4 linked regions of the Homo sapiens genome follow. The protein of the gene in region 1 purifies or fractionates together with the protein of each later gene. This does not show direct contact. Each region holds a gene or a part of one and is shown on either strand. Other genes may lie near its edges.

Region 1 (5,288 bases):
ATCCGACACCTCCTACGTGCCCCGGGCTGAGCACCCCACACACATGATCTCAATCCTAAGCTGTGAGCTTATCTTCATCTGAGAGTTACTGAGACTTAGAGCCCATCACCCCAGGGTTACACCCAGAGTAGCTCACGGGGAGCCAGGATGGGAGCCTGATGTGTCTGAGCCAAAGCCCGGGCCTCTGGCTGCTGTGGGGTGGGGAGGGGTCCTGGGGTCCAGGCTCTGCAGAACCAGGCAAAGGGGAGGCATAGCTGCAGAGGAGCCTAGTCCTATATCAGGGAGACTGGCAGCGAGGCAACCAGGAGCACCCCGGGGGGAGGTTCTCCCTGCAGCCCCGACATGCCCCTTGGTAGCCCCTTTCCCTGGAGCCTCCCTCAGCCTCTGAGAAGAGCTGTGCTGACCCAGGGTTAGGAAGTGGGGGTGGCAGTCACATCGCCAGGCTGGGGTCGGGGTTGCTTACACCACTGTCAGGATGCCCGTGGCCGTGAACGTCAGGCCTTTCAGTTGGACGATGGGATCCACCAGGCTCTGCTGGCTCGGGCTGGTCCGGAATTGGGTGAAGGTGAAGTGGATCTTCAGGAGGTTTGAGTACTGCATCAGTGCAAACTGCAAAGGCCAGTGGGGAGGGCCCAGGGCTCAGTGCCTGTTACTATTGTTTTTATTTTAATTTTTTGTAGAGACAGGGTCTCTCAAACTCCTGGCCTCAAGTGATCCTCCTGCCTCAGCCTCCAAGTAGCTGGAACTACAGGCACACGTCACATGCCTGGCTTTGTTTTTTGTTTTGTTTTGTTTTTGGTAGAGACAAGGTCTCACTATGTTGCCCAGGCTGGTCTCGAACTCTTGGCCTCAAGCAATACTCCCACCTCAGCCTCCCAAAGTGCTGGGATTACAGGTGTGAGCCACCACACCAAGCCATATTGTTTTCAGTTTTAATAAACTTTATTTTGGAATTATTTTGGATTTACAAACCATTTCCCATGTGTTTTGAAGCCCTACAAATAATATACTGAAACCCAGAGAAGAAAATTCATTGGCCCAAAAATACAAAATATAAACTGGAAAATCTAAACCAAATGATATTTCCTTCACAGTTTATTAAAAATAACTTTGCCAACCACAATATTTGCTACCCTTAGCTTTTTAAAAATTTTATCACACATTAAATCAATTTGTGTATTTCCTCCCTTCTCAAGAATTTGTGGCTGGGCGTAGTGACTCATGCCTGTAATCCCAGCACTTTGAGAGGCCAAGGTGGGAGGGTTGTTTGAGCCAGGAGTTGGAGACCAGGTTGGGCAATATAACAAGACCCCATCTCTACAATAAAAATTTTTAAAAATTAGCCAGGCATGGTGGCATGCACCTGTAGTCCCATCTACTCAGGAGGCTGAGGAAAGAGGATCACTTGAGCCTGGGAGATCAAGTCTGCAGTGAGCTATGATTGCACCCCCACACTGCAGCCTGGATGACAGAACAAGACCCTGTTTAAAAAACAAAACAGTGGGGTTTTTTTGCACATACATAGGCACTAGTTATGGGAAAATAAAATAATAAAAAGAAATCATTAGTTACATAGAAAATATGTCAGTCAAATTCCATAGCAAAATTATTTTTTAAACACTTTCAATGTTTTTAAACAGCAGAAACATTGTATTTCCTGTAGCTTTTGGATACATTATTAAATGCCAAGAGGGCCTCCTAGGTCAGGGCTCAAGTTGGGCCTGTGCTGGGACCATAGCTTCATTCTCCACCCCAGCCCCATCACACACGGCTCACTGGCCTGCCCCCACCCCTCCCGGGATGCCTCCCCGAGGCCAGCCTCCCCCGTCCCCCAAACCCCAGCCCCAGGTGCCCAGTCTTCACCAGGGTGTCAGTGCCCTCAAACTGGCCCATGACAGCTTGGACAAAGCCCTTCATCTGGTTAAAGTCATTTTGGTCAATGCTTCCAGAGCCGTCAATCAGGAAGACGATGTCCATCTCTTGATGTGGACACTCTGTGGGGGAATGGGGAGGAATCGGAGATGCACTGCGGGGGCCCAACCCCCTCCTGCAGCTCCTGCTCAACAGAGCCCGGGGGCTGTTCTTGGCATCCCCACCTAGTTTCCGACCCCTCCTTGGAGGAGGCCCCAGTCTGCCACCCCAGCCCCCTGCTCCCTTCCTCCCACATGGCCTGGAAAGAGAGGGATGACAACACAGGACCCAGGTGGGCTCCTCATCCATTTAATCAACAAATATTCATTAAACACAGATGCTAGGGGTGCCACAAGCATCAAGGGCGAATGTTTAGCAAAGTGGTTCAGGGCGCGTGTTCTGGAGCCAGTGTGCCTGGGCTAAACCCCAGCTCAGCCACGTGCTAATTGGTGAATTCAGGCACATTACTTAACTTCTCTGGACTTCAGTGTCCCTATCTGTAAAATGAAGGTAATATCAGTGGCTACCACGTGGGATCACTGCAAGGATAAAGCAACACGCACATGGGTGCTGGAGACAAGTCCTGGCCCTCTGCCAGGGTCAGCCGCTGGCACCATTCTCACCACGTGCCAGGCACCTTCGAGGCCTGTAGGATATGCCTGTAGGGATGCTGTGGGGGTGGGGCAGGGATCCACCCCAGACCCCACCCTACCCCCAGTCGGTCAGAGGTCCTTATTTCCAGCTACGTGGAGTTGGCTCTGAGCTGAGTCCCTTCCCAGGAATCACGCTAGGCAGAGGGGAACTGTTGCCCACTGGGACACCTCCTGCCCCTGGAGGAAACCTTTACCGATGACTGGTTCAGCGTCTGAAGGGCCAGCTGCACTCTGAGCCCCCCAGGCATTGGCTGAGGCCTCTGGTTTTTTCATTTTTTGTTTTTTTGAGGCAGAGTCTCACTGTCACCCAGGCTGGAGTGTGGTGGTGTGATCACAGGTCAGTGCAGCCTCGACCTCCCCAGGCTCAGGCAATTCTCCCACCTCAGTCTCCTGAGTAGCTGGGACTACAGGTGTGCACCACCTTGCCTGGCTAATTTTTGTATCTTTTTGTAGAGACGGAGTTTCGCCATGTTGCCCAGGCTGGTCTCAACCTCCTGGGCTCTAACGATCCACTCACCTCGGCCTCCCAAAGCACTGGGATGACAGGCAAGCACCCCAGTGCTGACCTTGGGCCTCTGTTATGATTGCATTGCATCCACCCTTCATGCTCCCATGGGTGCGGTGCCCAAGAATATTCCCAGTTGGGAGTGGTGGCTCACGCCTGTAATCCTAGCACTTTGGGACGCTGAGGTGGGCGGATTACTTGAGGTCAGGAGTTCAAAACCAGCCTGGCCAACATGGTGAAACCCCATCTCTACTAAAAATACAAAAAAATTAGCCCGGCATGGTGGCGGTGCCTGTAATCCTAGCTATTTGGGGGGCTGAGGCAGGAGAATCACTTGAACCTGGGAGGTGGAGGCTGCAGTGAGCCAAGATTGTGCCACTGCACTCCAGCCTGGGCGACAGAGTGAGACTCCGTCTCAAAAAAAAAGAACATTCCCAAGTGACCTCAGAGTTTGTGGAGTTCACTCTGCAATCGTGAGGGCACATCATATGCACATGAACAAATAAGACTTTTCATGCTGTCCCCAGGCTCATGGGGGGTGTGTGGCCTGTGTTCAGGGCCCAGTTGGTACCTCCACCAGCAGCCACATCCTGTGCTGCCCGCAGGGCACTGGGAGATCAGGCCACCAGAGCACTAAGGTGTGAGGCCCACACCACAGGGCTGTGGTTTCTGCCCCCTGCCCACCACTGCAGAAAAAAAAAATGCCTTTTCCTCTTTCCTCTCCCCTACCCCACTTGCTCAACCACTGGTGCTTCAAGGGTGCTGGGGAGAAACAGAAGGTCACTTCCTTCCTGCTTCTTCAATCACCAGCAAATCTTGACATCCATGGGGCAGGCTGCAGATCCCCCCAGGAGCTCCCCGTTTTTTGCCCACATCTGGGCAGCCAACATCTTGCAGTGGTGCCTGTTTTTTCAGCTGCGTCAAGAAACCACCCTCTCATCCTCTCTCAGGCCAGGTCTGTGGCAAATCCTCTCACAATGTCTCTTCTGTTTCTTGGTCTTTTTATTGTATCCCCTGGTCTCCCACTAGCAGAAGCCTGGACTTATCCTTTTGAAAAAGGACCCCACCAATCAGGCAAGGATGGCTCAAGCTCTGGGCTCTGCCTCTTGCTATCGATGGAACTCATCTATCTGAACCTTGGTTTTCATATCTGTAAAATGAGAATGGGCCTGCCCGCCACCCAGGATGTTGTGAGGATGCAATAAGGTGATTCATACCAGGTATTCAGCACTGCTTGGCACACAGGTGATCCTCAGTGGACCCTGGTCCCTTCTACTTGGACCCACACCCCCCTTGCCTGCACCAGTTTTGTGCTCCAGTCCCATTTGCATCAGGCATCCCACCTCATGAGTTCCACGGATGGCTGTGAGAAGACATTTACCCCTTGTTTTTAAGTGCCACCTCCCTAACCTGGCTTCACAGACATCTCAGGCTGGGCACGGTCCCCCCAAGAACCCTGGATGTCCCTTCCCCCTTCCCTTGGTCCCCTCCATAGACTCCACCCTCACCATTTGCTCTGGTAATGTTTCTGCTGCTGCTCCACCTTTGTCTAAAGGCCCAGCATGCCTGTCATCATGGCCTCTCTGGTCTGAAGCCCCACCCTCGGTCAGCACCCTGAGCGGCCCCTGGCATTCCCTCTCACACGGCAGATGAGACAGTTTGCCTGTATCTTCCTCCCAGTCCCAGCATGCAGTCCCCAGCTGGAAGATGGGTCAGAGGGGCTATCACATACTATGTGCCAGGCAGGGTTCCAAGTGCTTTATGCACCTCAATCCCTTTCACCTTCATAACCCCCTGATTATTGAGCTCTATTTTACCAATGAGGAAACTGAATGGCTTTGAGGGAATGAAGCTTCAAGGGAATGAAGCCTGGTGCCCATGGAAAACAAACTTGGGAACCACCATGATGCAGACCAACCCTCAGAGAGATGTCATGGTGGTGTCCCCAGGCCCTGTTCTCTGTGGAAGACATGGGCACTGACAAAATTGCACATCGCATTTTCCGCAGCCCTGTCATTTGCTCCTCTTCGAGAGGAAAGTTAGTTTGGGGAATCCTGGAAGCTCAGCAGTGAACCATCCAGAAGAAACACCTCCCTCATGGATTTATCTTCCTCACCACGTTCTTTACCACACTAAGGTCCTTCCTCTGAAACTCAAGAAGTGGCCATGCACCTGTTGGCAACTGGAAGATGCTGTGCCCTCTACAGCCCGCACAGTGG
Region 2 (4,393 bases), on another chromosome or scaffold:
CTGACCCACCCCCACCGCACAAGCAGACCCGCAGCCCAACTTCATCTCCCACCATCTGATTGCCTCCTCCCCAGCCCGAACCCTCAAGGCTAAGTCTAAACCCCTCCTCCTGTCCCCAGGCAGGGGCAACAGCAGTGGCACAAGCCAGAGGACAGGCAGACAAGACAATAGATGTTCCACCCCAGGCCAGGGCACCTCAAAGCCCAGGGTACCCCAGGTCCAGGGCACCCCAAAGCCCAGAGTATCCCACAGCCCAGGGCACTGCATGGCCCAGCATACTCCAAGACCCAGGGCACCCCAGTTCCAGGGCACCCCAAAGCCCAGGGTACCCCAGAGCCCCAAAGCACTGCATGGCCCAGCACACCCCAAGGTCCAGGGCACCTTAAAGCCCAGGACACCTCAGGTCCAAGGCACCCAAAGTACAGAGTACCCTCCTGCCCAGGGCACCCTAGATCCAGTACACCCCACAGCCTTGTGCACCCCATGGCCCAGTGTACCCACAGTCCAGGGCACCCCAAAGCTCAGGGCACTCCAGGTCCAGGGCACCCCCAGCCCAGGGCACTGCATGGCCCAGCACACCTCATGGCCCAGGGTACTCCAAATGCCAAGCACCCTAAGTCCACGGCACCCCACTGCCCACTGTACCCCAATCTACAGCATCCCAAAACTCAGGCAACCCAAGTCTAGGGCCCTGCACGGTCAAGGCCAACACAGCCTCCCTGCTGCCCCGCTAACGGCCCCCCCAGGTCCAGGGCCCTGCACGGTCCAGGCCAACACAACACAGCCTCCTAGACCTGCTGCCCCACCAACGCCCCGACTTGGTTTCTTCTCCTCGGCCTCCCGCATCAGCCTCCCGCCCCCTACGGAGCACAGCGCTTGGTGCAGGCGCCAGGAGCTCCAAGCACAGATACATTTCCTGAAACCTGAGCTTCTGAGAGGCCCAGGCCTCTGCCACCATTGTCACCCGAGGCAGGGAAGAAGGGGTGGGGGCAAACACCATCCCCAGGGCTCTGGGCCCCAGGGCCGCAGCAGGAGGAGCAGACCAAAGCCCATCCCACGCAGGAACACACACACCCATGCTCCACACCAGAGACCAGCCAGGGCCTTGCCTGGGTGTACCCCCACTCCCCAGCACACCCCCTCTAGGTCCCAGGTCCCCCACCGTGAAGACGGTGGCAGCCAGGGCCGGCTAGCACCTGCCACAAAGCCCAGGGTACAACTGATGCCAGCCACACCCTGCTCAGGCCTGGGATGTGGGGATAGGAATCCCGCTCAGGCCTGTGGTCTGGGGACAGGGACTCCGCTCAGGCCTGTGGTCTGGGGACAGGGCCTCCGCTCAGGCCTGTGGTCTTGAGGACAGGGACTCCGCTCAGGCCTGTGGTCTGGGGACAGTGACCTCACTCAGATCTGGGGTCTGGGGACAGGGACCCTGCTTAGGCCTCAGGTCTGCAGACAGGGACCCTGCTCAGTCCTGGGACCTGGGGACAGGGACCCAGCTCAGGCCTGGGGCCTGAGGATAGGGGCCCCACTCAGGCCTGGGGTCTAGGGACAGGGACTCCAATCAGGCCTAGGGTCTGGGGACAGGGACCCCGCTCAGGCCTGGGGTCTGGGGATAGCGACTGTGGCTGGGGCCTGGGATTGCAGATCCTTGTCTTCCTGCCCCCACTCCACCACCAGCAGCAGCTCAGGCCGAAGCCTGGCTCCACAAGCACCCCTTCACTGGCCTAGCTTGCTCCCCTCATAAAGACACCATGGAGCAGCCCAGGAGGGCCCCTGAGAGCAGCAGTCCCCTCCCACCCAGGCCTGCCGCCTGCTCCCCAACCCGCCCCTCCACCTCCCAGCCTTCCTATCGTGCTGCGGCTTTGACCCTTCAGCCCACCCTCAGGGACCAGCGACAAACCCCCAGCCCACTCTCCAATCCTCCCTGGCCAAGGGCAGTCCTCCCTGGCTCCAATGGTCCCCGTGTTGCCTGGGCACTGAATGCCCCACCCTGCCCCCATACCAAAGCTTTGAACCAGACCCCCAATGTACAAGGCGGACATGCCCTGAGTTCTCCCCAGGGCTCTGGGCCCCAGGGCCATGGCAGGAGGAACAGACCGATGCCCACCCAACACAGGAACCCAGATGCCCACATTCCATACCAGACCAGCCAGCTCTCCTGGTCCCTACTGGGAAGGTGTGGGAAGGAGGGGGGTGGTCCCCAGTGTGCAGACAGGATCCCCTGAAGGTAGGGTGGGGAGGCCAGGGCCCTGTCATCCCCAGCCCAAGCTCAGAAAAAACAGGAAGCAGAGTGGTGCTGAACCTCACACCTGCCACGAGCAGCTTAGGTAGCTCCAGGCACAGACCTCAGCCTGGCCCACCTTGAGCCCTAGGGCGGCTGGATGCAGGGGGTGGGCTCTGTAAAAACCTTCCTCCCTAGGGGGCAAAGGAGAGGGTAGGGAAGGCTGGGAAGGGGAGGAACTGGACAGGTCTGGGAGCCGGGCTGGGGGCACAAGCAGAGCCCGAGCTGGGAGTCCAGCAGCCCCATCTGACTTCGTGAGACCTGCAATGAAAAAGCGGCAGTGTGCCCCTTTCACAGGTGAGAAAAGCTCAGCCCTTCTGATGGCCCAGGACCTCAGGCCTCCTGAGCTGATAGACGCAGGGTCAGCCCCAGGCCCACCTCCTGTATCTACAGGGCCTTCACCCATCCCGTTCTCCTCATAAGCCCAGATCTGTCACGGGGACCATGCTCCAGCCACACCACCCCGCACAGCTGCCCTGGAGCCCAGCACACACATGCCAAGACAGAACAAGAAAGACCCTCGCTGGCAGGCAGGCTCCTGGGCTCCTGGCTCCAGAGATGGGCCAGCCAGGCAGGCACGACTTCCAGCTGCACCTCTGAGGGTGGGGCCCTGGCTGCCCAGGTCACGGCCAACTGCCACCACCCTGCTCCTCCCTCAGCCAGCAGGTGTCCCCTGGGCCTGCCACCTACCAGGCCCCAGAGCAAAGCTCCCTGCTGCCCCCAGCATGACACTACTCCTCCCCAAACCTCCATCACCACCTGCCATGCCTACAGAGCACCCGGGGTGCGTGCACACACGCAGCTGGGAGAATGTGGCCTCACCCTGCCAGCTACAAGCCAGGCACCAGAACCAACCCAGGCTGACACCGGCCTCCTGGGGACGTCTGGGGGTGGAGCCAGGAGAGGAGGGGCAGCCAGGCAGCCTGCTGGCATGTGGTCCACCACCTCTCCACATTCAAGACCCTGGGCCCACCCACTGAGGGAAGCTGAGCCCGAGACCAGCACAGATCCATGACTAATAGCACACAGACCCCGGCCACAAGAAGCCAGGCCAGGGGGCAGAGGGCCACCCAGCCAGGCCTGGGTCAACAGCAGAGACCACAAGGTGGGAGAGTCACTCAGGGGGCAGGGGGTGGAGGGAGCGAATGCAGAGCCCAGACTCCCCCACTCCTCTTCCACAAGGCCCTCTCATTCCCTTTACTCCAAGGAGCCCAAAAGCCCCACGGGCCTGGGCAGGATGCCACCCTAGCCTCCAGGCTGAAACCCCTCCTCAGGTCCCAGGGAGCCTGAACTCGGTCCTTGCCTTCCCATCACAGCCAAGTACACCTCAGCTCACCGCACAGAGCTGGACCTCAGCAAGCCAGGGCAGCATGGCCAGGGACTGCCGCCGCCCGAGTGCAAATACCAGGGTGCTGGCATCACGGCACAGCTCCCGCCCGGCAGCCAGGCCACATGGCAGGAGACCAGGGCTGCCCCCAAACACGCAGCTATGACTCTGCCCTGGCCCCCAACCCAGAGACAGGCCGCCTGCCCCCTCCTGGGGCATTCGAGGAACCGGCTGGAAGCAAGAGGCAGGGAGGTGAGCTGGCCCCGAAACCCAGTGCCCGGACTCCAAGGAAGGCAAGGGCCTACCCGGTCCCATCCCACACCTGACCGGCTGGCCCGCGGGGCGAAGAGCCAGGGCGGACACGCGATAGCCCGCCACATTCCTCCAAGACCTCCCTGCCCCCACACCCACTGCTGCCAACTCGAGCAGAAAACACATCCTCAGGTAGCGATGTGGGGCCACGCTGGCTCAGGCCCAGGTGCAGATGACAGGCTGCGGGCCCTGCTCAGACCTGCCTGCTGCACCGCCGTGGGGGCGAGGGGCTGGGCTTCTCACAACTGCCTGGGCCCTCCCATGCCCGCCCCTGCCTTTTCCATCTGGGGGACACTTTCCCCTCTCTGGGGCCCCCCTGGTCAAGGGATACTCGGCGGGGTGCTCACGGGTTGAGGACATGGCCAGAGGAGACTGTGGCCAGCTTCCACGGGTGGGAGCTCAGGAAGCGGTGAGGATGGGGGCAGCAGGCAAGGCTGCCAGCCAGGGCTGCAAAGGTACAGCACAGGACTGGG
Region 3 (4,393 bases), on another chromosome or scaffold:
AAAAATAGATCGCACCACTGCACTCCAGCCTGGCAACAGAGCGAGACTCTGTCTCAAAATAAATAAATAAATAAATAAAAAATAGGCCGGGCGCAGTGGCTCATGCCTGTAATCCTAGCACTTTGGGAGGCCGAGGCGGGCGGATCGTGAGGTCAGGAGATCGAGACCATCCTGGCTAACATGGTGAAACCCCGTCTCTACTAAAAATACAAAAAAAATTAGCCAGGCGTGGTGGCGGGTGCCTGTAATCCCAGCTACTCGGGAGGCTGAGGCAGGAGAATCGCTTGAACTCGGGAGGTGGAGCTTGCAGTAAGCCAAGATCGCACCACTGCACTCCAGCCTGCATGACAGAGCGAGATTCTGTCTCAAACAAAACAAAACAGAACAAAACAAAAATAAATAAATAAATAAATAAAAAATAAAGAATGCTACCCCTGTGACAACACCTTCCTTATTTGGGCTTCCCCGGTCTGGCTCCTGGCCACTCACCTTGGGCTCACCCTGAGCTGCAAAGCGGGTGCGCAGAACATCCACGGGGTGCACAGTGAGGGTGGCCATACAGGCAGCCAGGCCACCACATACAAAGTGCACTGAGAATTCCCGGGCGTCATACACGCTGCCTCTGTGGACCAGCTCCGTCAGCATTTCAAATGACAAGAACTGCAAGAGTAAGTGAAGAAGTCACCGACAGCCCAAAGGATGAGGGTGAGGACCAAATACTCCCCAAATACATCACCCGTGACCCGGCTGGGGCCCAGGTGGAGGGGCGAGGAAAAGGTCAGGAAATGTTCTTCTTGAGCAGTGACAGCATATGATAAATACAACATTCTACGCAAAACTCGGATGCCATTTGATACTTGAGTAGAGTCAGACACTCAAAGGGTTAAGAAGATATATGGGGGCCAGGTGCAGTGGCTCACACTTGTAATCCCAGCACTCTGGGGGGCCGAGGCGGGCAGATCACGAGGTCACAAGTTCGAGACCAGCCGGGTCAACATAGTGAAACCCTGTCTTTACTAAAAATACAAAAATTAGTCAGGCATGGTGGCGGGCACCTGTAGTCCCAGGTACTTGGGGGGCTGAGGCAGGAGAATCACTTGAACCCGGGAGGCAGAGCTGCACTGAGCCAAGATCATGCCACTGCGCTCTCCAGCCCGGGCGACAGAGCAAGACTCGGTCTCAAAAAAAAGACTGGGTGCAGTGGCCCACGCCTGTAATCCCAGCACTTTGGAAGGCCGAGGTGGGCAGATCATGAGGTCAGGAGTTGGAGACCAGCCTGGCCAATATGGTGGAACCCTGTCTCTACTAAAAATACAAAAATTAGCCAGGCATGGTGGCGTGGGCCTGTAACCCCAGCTACTTGGGAGGCTGAGGCAGAAGAATCGCCTGAACCCAGGAGGCGGAGGTTGCAGTGAGCTGAGATTGCGCCACTGCACTCCAGCCTGGGCAACAGAGTGAGACTCTGTCTCAAGAAAAAATAAAAAAGATACATGAGAACAATGTATATCAGAAAATGTCACTGGCTAACTTAGTTTTCTGAGAACTGGGGAAGACGGCCATGCTCTGATTCCTGCAGGGACCCCTTCAGTGCAGCTGGCGGCGGCACCTGGTGGCGGCACTGTTCGAGAATCATTCTTTTCTGGGGCAGATTCTTTTGGGAGCATGTTCCACAGGGTGACCCCCTTACATTCAGATCTTTCTTTTTTTTTTTTTTTTTTTTTTTTTAGGGACAAGAGTGTCTCTCTGTCACCCAGGCTGGAGTACAGTGGCACAAACACGGCTCACTGCAGCCTCAACCTCCTGGGCTCCAGTGATCCTCTCACCTCAGCTCCTCAAGTAGCTGGGATTACAGGCGCATGCCACCATGTCCAGCTAATTTTGGTATTTTTTGTAGAACCAGGGTTTCACTATGTTGCCAAGGCTGGTCTCAAACTCCTGAGCTCAAGCAATCTGCCCGCCTTGGGCTCCCAAAGGGCTGAGATTACACACATGAGCCACCGAGCTTGGCCCTGTTTTGCTTTTTGAGGCAAGGTCGTGCTCAGTTGCCCAGGCTGGAGTGCAGTGGCTCGATCACAGTTCACAGCAGCCTTGACTTCTCTAGCTCAAATTATTCTCCTGCCTCTGGAATAGCTGGGACGACAGGTGTGTACCACCATATCTGGCTAATTTATTTTTTATTTTTAGTAGAGAGGAGGTCTCCCTAATGTTGCCCAGGCTGGTCTCAAACTCCTGAGCTCAAGCCATCCTCCCACCTCAGCCTCCCAAAGTGATGGGATTACAGGTGTGAGCCACTATACCAGGGCTATGCTCAGATCTTCCTTCAGCCAACTGAAGATGGCCTGGCTTCTTTTCTTTTTTTGAGACAGGGTCTGGCTGTGTTGCCCAGGCTGAAGTGCAGTGGCATGATCGTGGCTCACTGCAGCCTCCGCCTCCCGGGCTCAGATGCTGGGATTACAGGTGTGAGCCACTGAGTCCAGCCCACGCCTGGCTTCTTGAGACTATCCTGTTGCTGTATTTATTCGTCATGCTGCAATATCTGTTTGCAGACAAGTGCAGAGACAGGATCGCAGGGCATGCCCAGCCAGTAAGCACCTGACTTGGGCGGTCACTGTGATGTCACAGGAAGAGTAGGAAGGGACATCTCTGGCACTAGCTGCCTAGGTGGGGGTCGTGGCTCTGCCATTTTCTAGCCAGTGGCTTTGGTTGGGTTAATTATGTAAGCTCTGTCCACCTCAGTCTTCTCATGCATGACATGGGAGGGACAACAGCCCCTACCTTAAGGACTGCTGTGACAGAGTGTATGTGAAGTGCTTCCAACAGGGGCCTGGCCCATGGTTTGCACTGTACAGGGCTGGTTCTTAAACACATCTACTGCATAAAATCACATGCTGTGCACTATGACTATACTAGTGCTCCACTGAACGAAGCATGAGTTCTAACCCTAGCCCCGCCATGTGCAGGCTGTGTGGCCTCGGACAGCTGACTTCTCCTCCCTGAGATCCACATGACAGCTACCCTGCCCTCCTCATGACGGTGTGGTGAAGTTCAGATGAACCACATATGTGAAGGTGGTATTTCAAAAACTGAAATGCATTAGTGCTGTCCTTCGCCAAGCCTCACAGAAGGCATGACATCAAATCGGTCTCCAAGATGCAACACCTAAGTCACACAGGATAGACGCAGGGACATGGCGGAGGGCAATGCCTACGGTACTGCTGGTCAGGAAGGCTCCCGGGTGAGGCAGGTGGGAAGCGTGGGGCCTGCCTCTTCCGTCCTGCCCTGCGCGGCATTCCTGCTTGCCTCACCCTCCCTCTGCTCCTCCACTGAGCAACGTGACCCCAGAGGTCTGGCCAGGTCCCTTGCCACCTACTTGGACAGCTCCATAGCCTATGGAGAGAATCTGAGCTGGGACGTGTCCTTTCCAGAAAGCTGTCGGACCCTCCTCCTGCAGAATCTGCCTAGAGGCCTGGAGGATGCCATGGTACTTTGCGCTGGGGTCACTGCGAGACAGGCGCTCATGCTGAAGCTAGGAATCAAAATAAAAAAGGTCAGGACAGTGGGGTGGGCTGGAATGTGAAGGGGAACTTTCAGAAAAGGCAAGCCCTTCATCTGGATAGAATTCCAAGTTTTAGGAACTGCTTTTGCAAGAAAGACTGAACTTGTCCTCCAGTCCATTGCATGGAAAAAGGGGAAGAGTACCTGGAAACGGATCTTGATGACGTCGAAGGGACTGATCAGCGCCCGAGTAACAAGTCCAGACACAGACCCAGCCACTGCCACCTGGAACTTGGTGTTATTCCTGCCATCTGGTTTGGGGTCATAGCCAACCATCCCTGCCTCTGGCCCACACAATGTCCATCAGTATCAAGCTAAATGCAAGAGATACGGAATAAACACCAGGCAAGTTTCTTATGGTCTCTGCTCAAATATCACCTCCTCAGAGCAGCCCTCCCTGACTAGACTGTCTAAAATAGCACTCACTTTTGGACTGGGCGCAGCGGTTCATGCCTGTATCCCAGCACTTTCGGAGGCCGAGGTGGGTGGATTGCTTGAGCTCAGGAGTTCAAGACCAGCCTGGGCAACACTGCAAAACCCCAACTCTACAAAAAATACAAAAATTTAAAAATAAAATAAAATAGCACTTGTTTTATTCCTCTTTACAGTACTTATTACTATGGCATATTTGTTTACTTTTTTAGAGACAGGGTCTCACTCTGTTGCCCAGGCTGGAATGCAGTGGTGCCATCATAACTCACCATAGCCTTGAACTCCTGGGCTCAAGTGATTCTCTTGCCTCAGCCTCCCAATTAGCTGTCACTTAACAGGTGCAGGCCTGGCTAAGTTTTTTATTTTTGTAGAGATAAGGTCTCAATGTTGCCCTGGCTGGTCTCGA
Region 4 (4,393 bases), on another chromosome or scaffold:
CATGCAGTCACAGCCACACAGTCTTCATGTTTTGGCTTTTTTACAACAATAACTGTTTAAAATGGTAAAACCAGGCCAATGAGGGTGTAGGGTTGAGCTGCAGGACCCAGCTGCTCCTCTCCCCTCAGTGACCTTCCTTCCAGAGCCAGGCTCCTTCCGGAGGCGCAGGACTTTATCCACGGGAGGCAGCACTTTCCTAACAGGAGAGGAGACGCTGGTCCCCACGAGCCACAGGCAGCCCCACCCCACCTCCCTAGGGGGCCAGCAGCCATGCCCGTGCCCACCCCCACAGGGCCCAGCTGAGCGAACACCAGCCCACCTGGCACGAGGCGGTCCCGGGTGTACCACAAGGCGATGCCGTCTCCATGGAGGTTCTTCTTCCCTGTGCCGTGGACTTTGAAGTGGACGTGCATTTCCCAGTCTTTGAGGAAGCACGGCTGGAGGGAGAGCAGAATGGGCTGCTCAGAGCTCCCCAGGGCCTTCCAGCAAGCTGGAGGCAACCCCAGCACGGCCCCTGCCCCACAGACCTCTCTTCTCTCCCCAGCTAAGACTGGGCACTCCTTGGCACAGGGCCACAAGTGCCACTGACCACAGACCCCTAAATGTTCTGGCCGTGAAGGGAAGAGACTGTTGGGCACCAGGTGAGGTGGGGGAGGCCAGTGTTCCAAGGCTGCCTGAGGCCCAGACCCCGCCAGCAGACCTCAGGCTGCTCCTGAGTAGGTTTAGGTGGCTGCCACACTGTTCACCCTCATTACCAGCCAAACCCACCAGCCATTTCCTCTCCATCCACTGCTCTTGCCCTGGAACCTTCTGCAGACGTTACAACTCCTATTTGAGCAAAGTATTTTACAGGAAAACAAATTCAGAGGTGTAACAACTTGTCCAGAGCAGCTCAGTGGACTGTCTGGACTCACGCGCAGGGCTTTCTGACTCCGAGAGCTCTGCTCAGCGGACTGTCTGGATTCACATGCAGGGTTTTCTGACTCCGAGAGCTCTGCTCTGCCTTCAGTACTTCCCGCGGCCTGCAGGCCTTTCACATAAATTGCACCAGCCCCTTTCTGGTCACCCACATCCACTGCCACATCCACCCTGCTAACCAACCTTCCCAAGTGAGGAAAATCAGGCCGGGTCAGTGCTGCTGGCCTCAAGCCCAGGTCTGGCTGACTCCAAAACCCAGCCCTTCACCAGTTCACCTCCCCAGCCCAGCCTAAGTGTGGTACCAGCGCTGGGGATGAGAGCTGGTCAGGGTCGTGCTCTGGGACTCAAGGGCACCACCATGTGAGCTGGGGCAGGGATGGGCACCGCCTACGCCAAGGGAGAAAGCCTTGCCTTAGGCATCAGGAAGTCGCTTGTGAAAACTAAGGTGTCAACACACACGGTGACAAGAATCCACTTTCAGGAAGTCTGCAGATGGGTATGTAAGCAAGTGATTAAACAAAGACCCATCACAAAGGCAAACCCAAACAGGATGTTGACCTGTCAGACTGGCAACTGTGAAAAAGACCATTAACGTCCAATGCAGATGAGCATGAAGAGAAATGAATACAGGAGTAAAGGAACATGAACCAGTATTAATGATGGGTAATTCTGGGAGGGGGATTATGGCGACTGTTTACCATGTTTGAATAATGTATAATAAACATATTACTTCTGTGATCACAGAAAAATAAAAAACACTGTACCCCAATTTGAGCAATATGCTTCATGCATTCATTGATGCCACAGACTCACTGCTCCCACTCTGGGCACCAGGAACCCAGATAACAAAACCTAGGCCGAGTCCCCGAGAGCACAAAAGAATGGAAGATATAGAATTGTGGGTAAGAGACAGAGGAAACAGTGAGAGAGGCTAAGACTCATATAATTGGGATTCCCGAGTAAGATGTGAGAAATGAAGGCAAAGGAATATTTAAAGACGTCTAAGCACTTACTAAAACTGATTCAAAGACACGCCACAAACTTGAAAAGTCCTACAAACCAAAGGAGATGACTAAAAAGAAAACCATATTTAGGCACAAAAAAAGAAGGGAGGGATAGAGGAAACAGCAACAACAACAAAAAAGTTTTTTTTAACATGAAACTATTTTTTTCTAATTTTTTTCCCCGTGGTACAGCCCCAGGCAATCCTGAGAACGTGTGCCACAAAAGCATTTTTTCTTTCTTTTCAATTTCAACTTTTATTTTAGATACAGGGGCTACATGTGCAGGTTACATGGGTATACTGCACCCAGGCAGGGAGAACAGTACCCAATAGGTAGTTTTTCAACCCACGTCCTCCCCCATCTAGTCTGGAGTGTCTATTGTTCTCCTTAAAAACAGAGAATCTTGGCCGGGTGCAGTGGCTCACGCCTGTAATCTCAGCACTTTGGGAGGCTGAGGCAGGTGGATCACTTGAGGTTGAGGCCAGCCTGGCCAACATGGTGAAACCCCGTCTCTACTAAAAATACAAAAATTAGCCAGGCGTGGTGGTACATGCCTGTAATTCCAGCTACTTGGGAGGCTGAGGCGGGAGAACTGCTTGAATCTGGGAGGTGGAGGTTGCAGTGAGCCGAGATTGTGCCACTGCATTCCAGCCTGGGCAACAGAGTGAGACTCTTTCTCAAAAAAAATCAGACTCACTCTGTCGCCCAGGCTGGAGTGCAGTGGCACAATCTCTGCTCACTGCGAGCTCTGCCTCCCGGGTTCACGCCATTCTCCTGCCTCAGCCTCCCCAGTAGTTGGGACTACAGGCGCCCGCCACCACACCCGGCTAATTTTTTTGTATTTTTAGTAGAGACAGGGTTTCACCGTGTTAGCCAGGATGGTCACGATCTCCTGACCTTGTGATCCGCCCACCTCAGCCTCCCAAAGTGCTGAGATTACAGATGTGAGCCACCACGCCCAGCCTTTTTTTTTCTTTTTTTTTTTTTTTTTGTGAGACAGAGTTTCGCTCTTGTTGCCCAGGCTGGAGTGCAATGGCGTGATCTTGGCTCACTGCAACCTCTGCCTCCTGGGTTCAAGCGATTCTCCTGCCTCAGCCTCCTGAGGAGCTGGGATTACAGGCATGCGCCACTACGCCTGGCTAATTTTGTATTTTTAGTAGAGACGGGGTTTCTCCATGTTGGTCAGGCTGGTCTTGAACTCCCGACCTAAGGTGATCCGCCCGTCTCGGCCTCCCAAAGTGCTGGGATTACAGGCGTGAGCCACCGCGCCCGGCCATAAAAAAAATAATAATCTTAAAGAAAAAGGAACCAGAGGGAAAAAAGGCAATGACTCTCACAGGAGCAATAATCAGCCTGACACCCGGCTTCACGGCGGGAACAGCGGGAGCAAGAAGGCAGATGACTGATATGTTTGGAGATACAGGAAGGTAACAGCCAGCATGGGATTCTATACTCAGCAAATGTATCCTTCAAGAATGAAGGTAAAATAAAGATATTTTGAGACAAACAAACAAAAACCAAAAGAATTCATTAGCAGACTCACACTTTCATTCTTCAGGGAGAAAGAAAATGATCCCCATCCAGATGTAAAGTCAGATTCCAGAAGGAACGAAGAACAACAAATACAGTGACTATAAGGGTGAAAATCTAAATATCTGACTGCACAAAACAATGGGTTGTGTGATTTAAAACAGAAATAATTAAAACAAATGACAACAATAAATGGAGTTAAAGTGTGTTAGGATCCTTGCACTGTCCAGGAAGAAGGTAAAGTACACATTATCATTAGTCTTTGGTACAACATGAATGCCTGCTTTAAATTCTAGGGTGACCACTTAAAACTGAGAAAAGAGCATATAACTTTCAAGCTAATAGAAGAGGAAAAATAGGATAATAAAAATTAACCTAAAAGAAGACTAGAGAGAAAAATGAACAGAGAATAGGCAATTTGAATATATAGAGTAAGATAGCAGATTAAACCCAAATGTATCATATTTCATTAAATGTAAATGGACTAAATGCTAAATAAAAAAACAAAACCCAAGGGCACCTAGGATCTCTGTATTATTTCCTGCAACGGCATGTGAATTTATAATTATGTCAAAATAAAAAGTTTAATTTGAAAAGTAAAGAGGCCAGGTGCAGTAGCTCATACCTGTAGTCCCAGCACCTTGGGAGGCCATCATGGGAGGTTTGCTTGAGCCAAGGAGTTCAAGACCAGCCTGGGCAACACAGCAAGACTCCATCTCTATAAAAAAAAATAATAATAAGTATATAAAGATCAGAGATCTAAACTTAAGAGCTCAAACCTGGCCGGTTGCAGTGGCTCACACCTGTAATCTGAAACACTTTGGGAGGCTGAGGCAGGTGGATCACCAGAGCGCAGAAGTTCAAGACTAGCCCAGGCAACACGGTGAAAACCTGTCTCTACAAAAAAATACAAAAATTAGCTGGGCCTGACTGCGCATGCC

What was found.
Region 2: the proteins of ITGAD (region 1) and JAG2 purify together in Homo sapiens (affinity purification with mass spectrometry; one large-scale study listed by BioGRID and IntAct). This does not show direct contact.
Region 3: the proteins of ITGAD (region 1) and SLC25A19 purify together in Homo sapiens (affinity purification with mass spectrometry; one large-scale study listed by BioGRID and IntAct). This does not show direct contact.
Region 4: the proteins of ITGAD (region 1) and LMAN2 purify together in Homo sapiens (affinity purification with mass spectrometry; one large-scale study listed by BioGRID and IntAct). This does not show direct contact.

What each region holds. Positions count from the first base shown.
Region 1 is NC_000016.10:31,398,821-31,404,108, reverse strand, and holds part of ITGAD (integrin alpha-D isoform 2 precursor), read right to left. Parts: intron 1,995-5,288; coding exon 1,864-1,994; intron 610-1,863; coding exon 464-609; intron 1-463.
Region 2 is NC_000014.9:105,162,277-105,166,669, forward strand, and holds part of JAG2 (protein jagged-2 isoform a precursor), read right to left. Parts: intron 1-4,393. UniProt on the Homo sapiens protein: Putative Notch ligand involved in the mediation of Notch signaling. Involved in limb development.
Region 3 is NC_000017.11:75,282,934-75,287,326, forward strand, and holds part of SLC25A19 (mitochondrial thiamine pyrophosphate carrier), read right to left. Parts: exon of another isoform or gene 3,982-4,393; intron 3,870-3,981; 5' UTR 3,832-3,869; coding exon 3,700-3,831; intron 3,527-3,699; coding exon 3,371-3,526; intron 661-3,370; coding exon 490-660; intron 1-489. UniProt on the Homo sapiens protein: Mitochondrial transporter mediating uptake of thiamine diphosphate into mitochondria. It is not clear if the antiporter activity is affected by the membrane potential or by the proton electrochemical gradient.
Region 4 is NC_000005.10:177,338,169-177,342,561, forward strand, and holds part of LMAN2 (vesicular integral-membrane protein VIP36 precursor), read right to left. Parts: intron 438-4,393; coding exon 320-437; intron 1-319. UniProt on the Homo sapiens protein: Plays a role as an intracellular lectin in the early secretory pathway. Interacts with N-acetyl-D-galactosamine and high-mannose type glycans and may also bind to O-linked glycans.